Homo sapiens: one gene and its partner. The main gene of each other region encodes a partner of the protein of the gene in region 2 in a complex. Each region holds a gene or a part of one and is shown on either strand. Other genes may lie near its edges.

What was found. Proteins that work in one complex are often made in the same cells at the same time.
Region 1: LSM2 (region 2) and TXNL4A share a complex: the UniProt entries of both Homo sapiens proteins name them as parts of the precatalytic spliceosome.

The regions. Positions count from the first base shown.
Region 1 is NC_000018.10:79,975,064-79,978,563, forward strand, and holds part of TXNL4A (thioredoxin-like protein 4A), read right to left. Parts: intron 2,639-3,500; coding exon 2,535-2,638; intron 1,725-2,534; exon of another isoform or gene 1,655-1,724; intron 1-1,654. UniProt on the Homo sapiens protein: Plays a role in pre-mRNA splicing as component of the U5 snRNP and U4/U6-U5 tri-snRNP complexes that are involved in spliceosome assembly, and as component of the precatalytic spliceosome (spliceosome B complex).
Region 2 is NC_000006.12:31,803,343-31,809,307, forward strand, and holds the start of LSM2 (U6 snRNA-associated Sm-like protein LSm2), read right to left. Parts: upstream 3,625-5,965; 5' UTR 3,416-3,624; coding exon 3,413-3,415; intron 2,801-3,412; coding exon 2,733-2,800; intron 1-2,732. UniProt on the Homo sapiens protein: Plays a role in pre-mRNA splicing as component of the U4/U6-U5 tri-snRNP complex that is involved in spliceosome assembly, and as component of the precatalytic spliceosome (spliceosome B complex).

The DNA.
Region 1 (3,500 bases), on a different chromosome or scaffold from region 2:
AGCATGCACCAAGCTCCTTCTACAATGACTGGGGGCTGCCCGTAGCACCCTCCCTGCAGCCCTATCTGACCTGGGTGTACTTCTTCGGTATTTATATCTCATAAACATCTGCCTCCTTTCACTTCTTCAGAACCCCCTGCTAATTTACTCAGCTGTTTCTATCAGACAACGTCCTATGAGAGTGGGAATCCTGTCTTATCTGACATTAGGCTCCACCACTAGACCACAAACCTGGTGGGGGCTCAAGATATATGTTTGGTGCATAAGTTAACTAAAGTACCGTTTGTCTTAAAATTCTAAATCACAGAAACAGCAGAAGGAAGTTTCATCTCCTTTTCTGAGTACAGCATCAGTCCTAAAAATATCAAACTACACTAAGTAGGCTGCTCCCGCCACCCAAGGCTGTTGCCTGCAGCCTCCTTGCCCCTCACAGCATCTCCAGCCCCAGGCTGGCCTCCACTGCACGCTGTGGGGGGCAGAGACCTAAGACGGCCCTCCCTGTTCTCACCTGAAGAATTCTGAGGGGCAAAATAGAAAAGGCCTCTATTGCCTCGAACAGGCTGTTAACAGAAATATGGACTTCAGGAACACCTGGTGTGGGCTTGGAAGGAAGTGAGGAGTGTGTTACTGGGAAACGGAGAAAAGGGGACCCCCGTTACAGAGTGGCCGAGGAACAGGGACACGGGGTCCGCAGTTATAGGAAGTCAGAGCTCAAAAGCAACACACTCGGGATATTTAGCTGCGGAAACTTCCAAGCAAAGTCTCGGAGGTGCTGCCTTCAAGAGAGGAAAGAGGCAAATTAGTGTAAGAACTGTTAACAAAAGGAATAAATTCTTTAGCCTCTCCGGATGGCCAAAGGGGCTGAAATTCAGAAATGGCTGCTGAACACACAGTAGAGAAAAGGATGAGGGTCAGCCACGCAACCTTTGCTGAAACCTAGGAAAGATGAAAAGTTCACAAGAAATGCAGGGTGCACCTCACAGATCTTCTCAACCTAACAGGAGGCACCTAGGAAGCCAAGGGCGTGTCCAGGGGAGCGTATCCCGACGCCCAGAACCACGGCAGTGCCTCACGCTTTGGCAGCCTGAGGCGGGAGGATGGCTCGAAGCCAGGAGTTCAAGCTTGCTGTGATGGTGCCACTGCACTCCACCCTGGGTGAGAGTGAGACTCCATCTCAATAAATAAATAAAACAAGGTCACTATCCTGGATTATTTGGGCAAGTCTAATCTTATCACAGTCCTCTAAAACCAGAGCATTTTCTCAGGCAGAACTTTTCAGGTCAGAGAACCTGTGTGAAAAGTTCTCAATGTGCCGGCATGCCAGTGCTGGCTTTGAGGGTAACTGGGTCTCTGGCAGCAGAGTGGCCTCAGGTAACAGCAGCAAGGAAGCAGATCTCAGACCCACCACCACGAAGAGCCAGACTCGGCCCACAACCCAAACAAGCCCCTCAAACACTCCAGATAAGCACCCAGCCCATGGTTCAGACCTTGTGAGACCCTGAGCAGGAATCCAGCGGGCCCTGCCTGGATGTCTGACTTACAGAACTGTGAGCTCAGAAAAGCGGGGTGATTTAAGCTGCTCAATGCGTGCTAATTTGTTACAAAGAATACAAAACTAACGCATACCCTATACAACCCACCTGACCTTCCTTACCGAGTAGGAGGCTCCACTTTTGGAGAATGGTCTAATGCTCATGTAGCTAATTCACCAACCTCTATGGTAACTAAACAAGTAAAAACAGCATCAGATGGTGATTTCTTTCCCCATTAAATTTCCATAATGAAATTTTTGAGCTGATAAAATAATCTTGTATTTATAAGCAAAGTAGTTCAGGTGTTCCTCTTGGATATAAAAAAGGACACCGAAGTTGATGATAACATATTTAATAAATTAGGTTTTTGATTTTTTTTTTTGAGACGGAGTTTTGCTCTTGTTGCCTAGGCTGGAGTGCAATGGCATGATCTCGGCTAACTGCAACCTCCACCTCCTGGGTACAAGTGATTCTCCTGCCTCAGCCTCCCAGTAGCTGGGATTACAGGTATGCACCACCACGCCCGGCTAATTTTGTATTTTTAGTAGAGACTCGGTTTCACCATCTTAGCCCAGCTGGTCTCGAACTCCTGACCTTGTGATCCACCCACCTCGGCCTCCCAAAGTGCTGGGATTACAGGCGCTTTGAGCCACTGTGCCCGGCCTAAATTTGTGATTTTACAACATTTTTGATGAACAGATTATAGTTCCAGGTATCTAAAATGTCAGTAACAACATCTTTCATTGAATTACACTTCACCTAGGTTTCCCCGCAAAGTTATTTCAAAAGGGTAATTTGTTACTGAGTAAATGCTAAAACTAGAATTGTTACTTTGAAAATTATTTCAAAGATTCACACTGATTGCCTGGTGATACAAACGATTTTGGGACATGACTGTACAACCAACTTCCTTCAAAATAAAATAATCTAAAGAGATCTTGATTACATTAAGCTTCCAAACTGACAATATTCAATTTCAGTAACAACTTTAAGATAACGTACCTGAAGAAAAACATGACAGTACATGGATCGTATAACTCATACATTTTGTTGAAGTCAGGCACTTCTGTAATATCCACAAGATAAATAACTGCAAAATTTTTAACCTAAAAGGAGATTAAAAAAAAAAACTGAAATAACAGAACACTTTGGCTTTCATTTTATAGAAGCACATTTATAAAAACAAAACCAAGAATTTGTGTGGATCAGGGCAATTTTTGTTTTGTTTTTTTGAGACAGGGTCTCACTCTGTCATCCTAGAGTGCAATGGTGCAATCAGCTCACTGCAGCCTCGACCTCCCAGGCTCAAGCTATCCTCCCACCTCAGCCTCCCAAAGTGCTGGGATTATAGGAGTGAGCCATCACTCCTGGCCAACGGGGCAATTTTCAAACTAATTCTTCAACATTTTTTCCCAGTGCAGCAAACACGCGGGAAGATCATGTGACACTACTGGGACCTTGGCCACCGGCTCCTTCCGCCTCACGCCACCGTTTCCCAGAATAGTTCAGGAATTGGCCGCTGGCTCCTTCCGCCTCACTTTACCATCTCCCAGAATCGCCCAGGAATTAAATTTCACTCAGGTAACAAGTTATCAAAGTCCTGCAGAAAACGTCCACAGACATATTATTTATGCTGATCTAGTAATCATCTGTATGAACCTTTACAAATAGTTACATGCATCTCACAACTGCTCTAAAATATACCTGTAGAATCCTGCCATCATTTCCCCGCAATTAGGTCTGAACACTTGCAAATATTAATAGTACCTCCAATAATACTGCATATAACACATTTTCTGTTATTTTTTCTTTAATTGCAAGTTTATCAGAGATTTAGAAAAGTCAGAAAAATAAAAAGAAAATAAGATCACCTCCAATCCCAACACCTAGGGGTGACTGCTGCTATCTTTTTTCCAGAGACAGGATCTGGTTCTGCTGCCCAGGCTGGAGTGCAGTGGCAAGATCTTG
Region 2 (5,965 bases):
ACACAGTGAGACTCTGCCTCTCCAAATAATTAAAAAATTAGCTGGGCATGGTGGCATATAGCCCCAGCTATTCAGGAGGCTGAGTGAGCTATGGTGGTGCCACTGCACTACAGCCTGGACAACAGAGTGAGACCCCCATCTCAAAAAAATAAATGTGGAAGACGCTTTTGGGAAGAGAATACAATTGATCCCATCTTTCTAAAGGATAATGAGGTAACAGGTATCAATATTTTAAATGTACTTTTTTTTTTTTTTTGAGATGGAGTCTCAGTCTGTCGCCCAGGCTGGAGTGCAGTGGCCTGATCTCAGCTCACTACAACGTCCGCCTCCCGGGTTCATGTGATTCTCCAGCCTCAGGCTCCTGAGCAGCTAGGATTACAGGCGCACAACACAACATCTGGCTAATTTTTGTATTTTTAGTAGAGATGGAGTTTCACCATGTTGGCCAAGCTAGTCTCAAACTCGTGACCTCAGGCATCCACCCGCCTCGACTTCCCAAAGTGCTGGGATTACAGGTATGAGCCACCGCATCTGGCCTAAATGTACATATTATTTAAAGGACTGTACAGATAAGTACAGGGCCAGGTGTGCTGGCTCATGCGCGTAACCCCAGCACTTTGGGAAGCTGAAGCAAGAGGACTGCTTGAACTCAAAGAATTTGAAACCAGCCTGAGCAACAAAGTGAGGCACTGTCTCTAATTTTTAAATAAATAAATATTATTTTAAGAAAGAAAGTAGGACTAGGCGCAGTGGCTCACGCCTGTAATCCCAACACTTTGAGAGGCTGAGGCAGGTGGATCACAAGGTCGAGAGTTCAAGACCAGCCTGGCCTAGATGGTGAAACTCCATCTCTACTAAAAATACAAAATTTAGCCGGGCATGGTGGTGGGCACTTGTAATCACAGCTACTAGGGAGGCTGAGGCAGAGAATTGCTTGAACCCAGGAGGCAGAGGCTGCAGTGAGCCGAGATTACGCCATTGCAGTCCAGCCTAGGTGACAGACTGAAACTCCATCTCAAAAAAAAAAAAAAAGAAAGAAAAAAAGCTGGACAGAATCATATTTCAGTTGTGTCACTTACTAGTTTTGTAGACTTGAACAAGTGGTATAGCTGATCTAAGCCTCAGTTTCCTCGTGTAAAACAGCAATAGTATATATTACTTAGCAGTGTTTGAGAAATCAATCAATAAATGTATTCAGAATAGTGGTTAGTCAATACGTCTTCGGATATTATTTTTCTTTCTTTAAGCACCTATCATATAACTGGCCTATGCTAGGTATTAGATACACTACATGGTTTCACCATGTTGGCCAGGCTGTTCTCGCTCTCTTGACCTCGTGATCCACCCGCCTCAGCCTCCCAAAGTGCTGGGATTACAGGCATGAGCCATCGTGCCCGGCCTATGGCCTGTTCTTTTTTTTCTTTTTTTTTTTTTTTTTTTTTGAGACGGAGTCTTGCTCTGTCACCCAGGCTGGAGTGCGGTGGCACCATCTTGGCTCACTGCAAGTTCCGCCTCCCAGGTTCACGCCATTCTCCTGCCTCAGACTCCCAAGTAGCTGGAACTACAGGAGCATGCCACCACGCCTGGCTAATTTTTTGTATTTTTAGCAGAGACAGGGTTTCACCATGTTAAACAGGATGATCTCAATCTCCTGACCTTGTGATCCGCCTGCCTCGGCCTCCCAAAGTGCTGGGATTACAGGCGTGAGCCACCGCGCCCGGCCTGGCCTGTTCTTTTTTTGAGACAGAGTCTTCCTCTGTCAACCAGGCTGGAGTAAAGTGATACAATCATGGCTCACTGCAGCCTTGACCTCCTGGGTTCAAGTGATCCTCCCACCTCAGCCTCCCGAATAGCTGAGACTACAGGCATGTACACTACACCTGGCTAATTTTTTATAGAAATAGAGGTCTCATCACTATGTTGCCCAGACTAGTCTCGACATCCTGGACTCAAGTGATCCTCCTGCCTCAGCCTCCCAAAGTGCTGAGATTACAGGTGTGAGCCACCATGGCCAGCCTAGTACTTACTTTTTTTTTTTTTTGAGACAGAATCTCACTCTGTCACCCAGCTGGAGTGCAGCAGTGTGATCTCAGCTCACTGCAACCTCTGCCGCCCAGGTTCAAGCGATTCTCCTGCCTCACCCTCCCGAGTAGCTGGGATTACAGGCACCAGCCACCGTGCCCGGCTAATTTTTGTATTTTTAGTAGAGACAGGGTTTCACCATCTTGACCGGGCTGGTCTTGAACTCCTGACCTCGTGATTCGCCCACCTTGGCCTCCCAAAGTGCTGGGATTACAGGCATGAGCCACACGTCCAGCCCGTGAGCCACTGCGCCTGACCTGTATTTACTCTTTAAACTATATATTGCTTTGTATTGTTTTCCAATACACGATACAATCTCTAAGCTTATCTGTAAATTTAAGGCACAAGGCATTTATTTATTGCTAAATTTTAAAATTTTTCTTAGAGATGGGGTCTTGCTCTATTGCCTGGGCTAGAGTGCAATGGAGTAATCACTGCTCACTGCAGCCTCAAACTCCTGGGCTCAAGCTTTCCTCCTTCCTCAGCCTCCCAAAGTGCTGGGATTACAGGCTTGAGCCACTGCACCCTATCCATTTATTTCTTCTGTACATCTTCCACCTCGCCTAGCCCTGAAATATTTCTCAAATTAAAGAGGTTCCAGGGCCCTGGGCACACCCACCCCCAACAGACTTGTTGGAACAGGTACCTACCTCAGGTCATTCTTTAGTTCCACGACCACATCCTTGCCCACAAGGGACTTGAAAAAAGAATAGAAGAGCTATTGGGAGAGAGGGGGAAAACCATCATGTGGGAAGGAGCATGGTAGGGAGGAGTGTCCTTTGACAGTATTACCAAATACTGGTATTGTGAACCCCACTGCATCCCTGACAGTTCTCAAAATTTCACAGGAAAGAATAATTGGTTGACAGAGCTGAAAGGCTGGAGCCCAAATTATTCTGCACACTGCACTGAGCCCATCACTTAAAGTCCCAGAGAGACTCTGCCCTGCATACGTCGGCCTCCCCACTGTGCTCTCTCAGTCGACCACCTTTCTCGGGTACCTGCCCACTCCTTTCAATGAATTGTAGAAAATATCCCACCCGCACCCTGCCGAAGCTTGCCTGGCAGAGAAGTGCTCTGAGGTCTAACTTTTCCGTCTCCCGCTATCCTCACTGAATCTCTCTCAGGGTTGGGGTTTTTTCCCTCATCATGGAAAAAATATCCCATTTGTTCTCAGTGCCTCCTCAATGAACCTGAGAAACAGTACAGTACTAAAGATGAAGATAAAAACTCCGGACCTAACTCCAGCCTAGGGGTACAAAGGCCAGATCCCCCGCCCCAACCATGCGAGGTCCCCGAGGGCGCCCCCTTTTGACGTCACGGTACCCACCATGGTGCTGGCGCCGCGGGCAGCGGGCCGGACCGGGAAGACAGCAGGGTGCTGCGAGCAGGTCTGGGGAAACCGAAGCGCGAGCCCGCGCGTGGGGCGAGGCGGGACCGCGCAGGCGCAGCGGGAAGCGACGCAGAAAGCTCCAAGCGCTGACGGGCAAAGCGCGGCCGACTTGCGGCTGGGGAGCGCAAGCTGGGTAGAGTAGAGGGGAGGAGGAAGCCGGGAAAGGGGCGGGGTTTCCTTCATTCCGACTTCCTCCCTGGCCGGCCGGCTCCCATTGCGCAGGCGCGGACCCTAGCCTGGGCTGCCAGACGGGTGGCGGGACTCAGCGCCTGAGCTCAAAGGATTTTGTTCTTTTCCAGAATCCTGCCATCTACAGCGTGATGTGTTTGTGCCCTACACACACTTCCTATCGAGAATTGTGGGGAGTTTGTTAAGATTATGAAGTGTGCACTTTTCTATATTTGTTAAAGTAAAAACATAAAATTTAAAAAATAAAATTAAAAAATGTTTTGAATCTTAAATTCAGCTGATAAAAAGAAAAAAAGGCCGAGGGCCGTGGCTCAAGCCTTTAATCCCAGCACTCTGGGAGGCCTAGGTGGGTGGATTGTGTGAGGTCAGGAGTTCGAGACCAGTCTAGCCAACATGGTGAAACCCCATCTTCACTAAAAATACAAAAAAAATTAGGCGTGGTCGCAGGCTCCTGTAATACCAGCTACTCGGGAGGCTGAGGGAAGAGAATCGCTTGAACCTGGGAGGCGGAGGTTGCAGTGAACCGAGATCGCGCCACTGCACTGCAGCCTGGGCGACAGAGCAAGACTCCGTCTCAAAAAAAAAAAAAAAAAAAATGACCGGGAGCAGTGGCTCACACCTGTAATCCCAGCACTTTGGGCGGCCAAGGCAAGTGGATCGCCTGAGGTCAGGAGTTCGAGACCAGCCTGGTCAACATGGCGAAATTCTGTCTCTACTAAAAACCCAAAAATTAGCCGGGTGTGGTGGCACGCGCCTGTAAATCCAGGAGGCATAGGTTGCAGTGAGTGGAGATCTTGCCATTGCACTCCAGCCTGGGCAACAAGAGCAAAACTCCATCCCAAAAAACAAAAAATGTTGAGGCCTGTAAATCCCAGCATTTGGGGAGGCTGAGGCAGGAGGATCATTTGAACCCAAGAGTTACAGTGAGCTACAATCTCCCCACTGCATTCCAGCCTGGGTGACAGAGCGAGACTCTCTCTAGAAAAAAGAAAATTATAAACAAACAACGTTGAGCAGTCCCAGAGATAAGGAGGAGCTGGAGCACAAATTTTGATTTTATCAAAGGTTACCAATAAATACATTTCTCCAAAGGAGCCAACCTCAATCTCCGCATTTCTTACACACTTTTGCCAAGACTGTCCTGTAAAGGACTGTGTAAAACTAAAGAGACTGTGGCTCACAGATACAAATAACCCAGTCTAACATTTCACTGTTAAATGTTTCAAACACAAACAGACAGAAATGCAGTTACATATTATTCTAACTCATATCCCCCAGGTTTTTATAAATATGTATTAGGACACAGGTAAAAGAAAAAAATGTTTTTGAGATGGAGTCTCGCTCTATCACCAGGCTGGAGTGTGGTGCCACGATCTCAGCTCACTGCAACCTCCACGTCCCGGGTTCAAGCGATTCCTCTGCCTCACCCTCCTGAGTAGCTGGGACTACAGGCACGCATCACCGTCCTCAGCTAATTTTTGTATTTTTAGTAGAGACGGGGTTTCACCATGTTGGGCAGGATGGTCTCAATCTCTTGACCTCATGATCCGCCCGCCTCGGCCTCCCAAAGTGCTGGGATTACAGGCGTGAGCCACTGTGCCCAGCTGGTAAAAATATTTTTTCATGGACTGAGACTTCATAAAACTTGTATTTGTCATCTTGCATAGACATACTTATTTGTCAAGAGTTTGTTATAGAAATATTTTCTGGGGCTGGGCACGGTGGCTCACGCCTATAATTCCAGCACTTTGGGAGGCTGAGGTGGGTGGATCACCTGAGGTCAGGAGTTCAGAACAGCCTGGTCAACATGGTGAAATCCCGTCTCTACTAAAAACACAAACATTAGCCGGGCATGGTGGTGAGCGCCTGTAATCCCAGCTACTCATGAGGCTGAGGCAGGAGAATCGCTTGAATCTGGGAGGCAAAGTTTGCAGTGAGCCGAGATCGTGCCATTGCACTCCAGCTTGGGCGACAAGAGCGAAACTGTTTCCAAAAAAAAAAAAAAAGAAAAGAAATATTTTCTCCATGTAATGGATGTAAACAATGAACTCTGTGAGTGCATAGATGCTGAATCTCCTGGACCTTACCTATAAGTGACATCAGGACATCAAGCAGGATTTGTCCCTCCACCCCCAGTTGAGTCCTAAACTCCAAAACCAGCTTGTAACTGATTAAAAGCAGTTATAGTTTGCCATCTGTTCCATCTGTGCTAAAGGTGTCTGAGGATCAAAAATTATGTGGCTGATTGAAACAATGAGTTCATGGGCCGGGCACGGTGGCTCACGCCTGTAATCCCAGCAC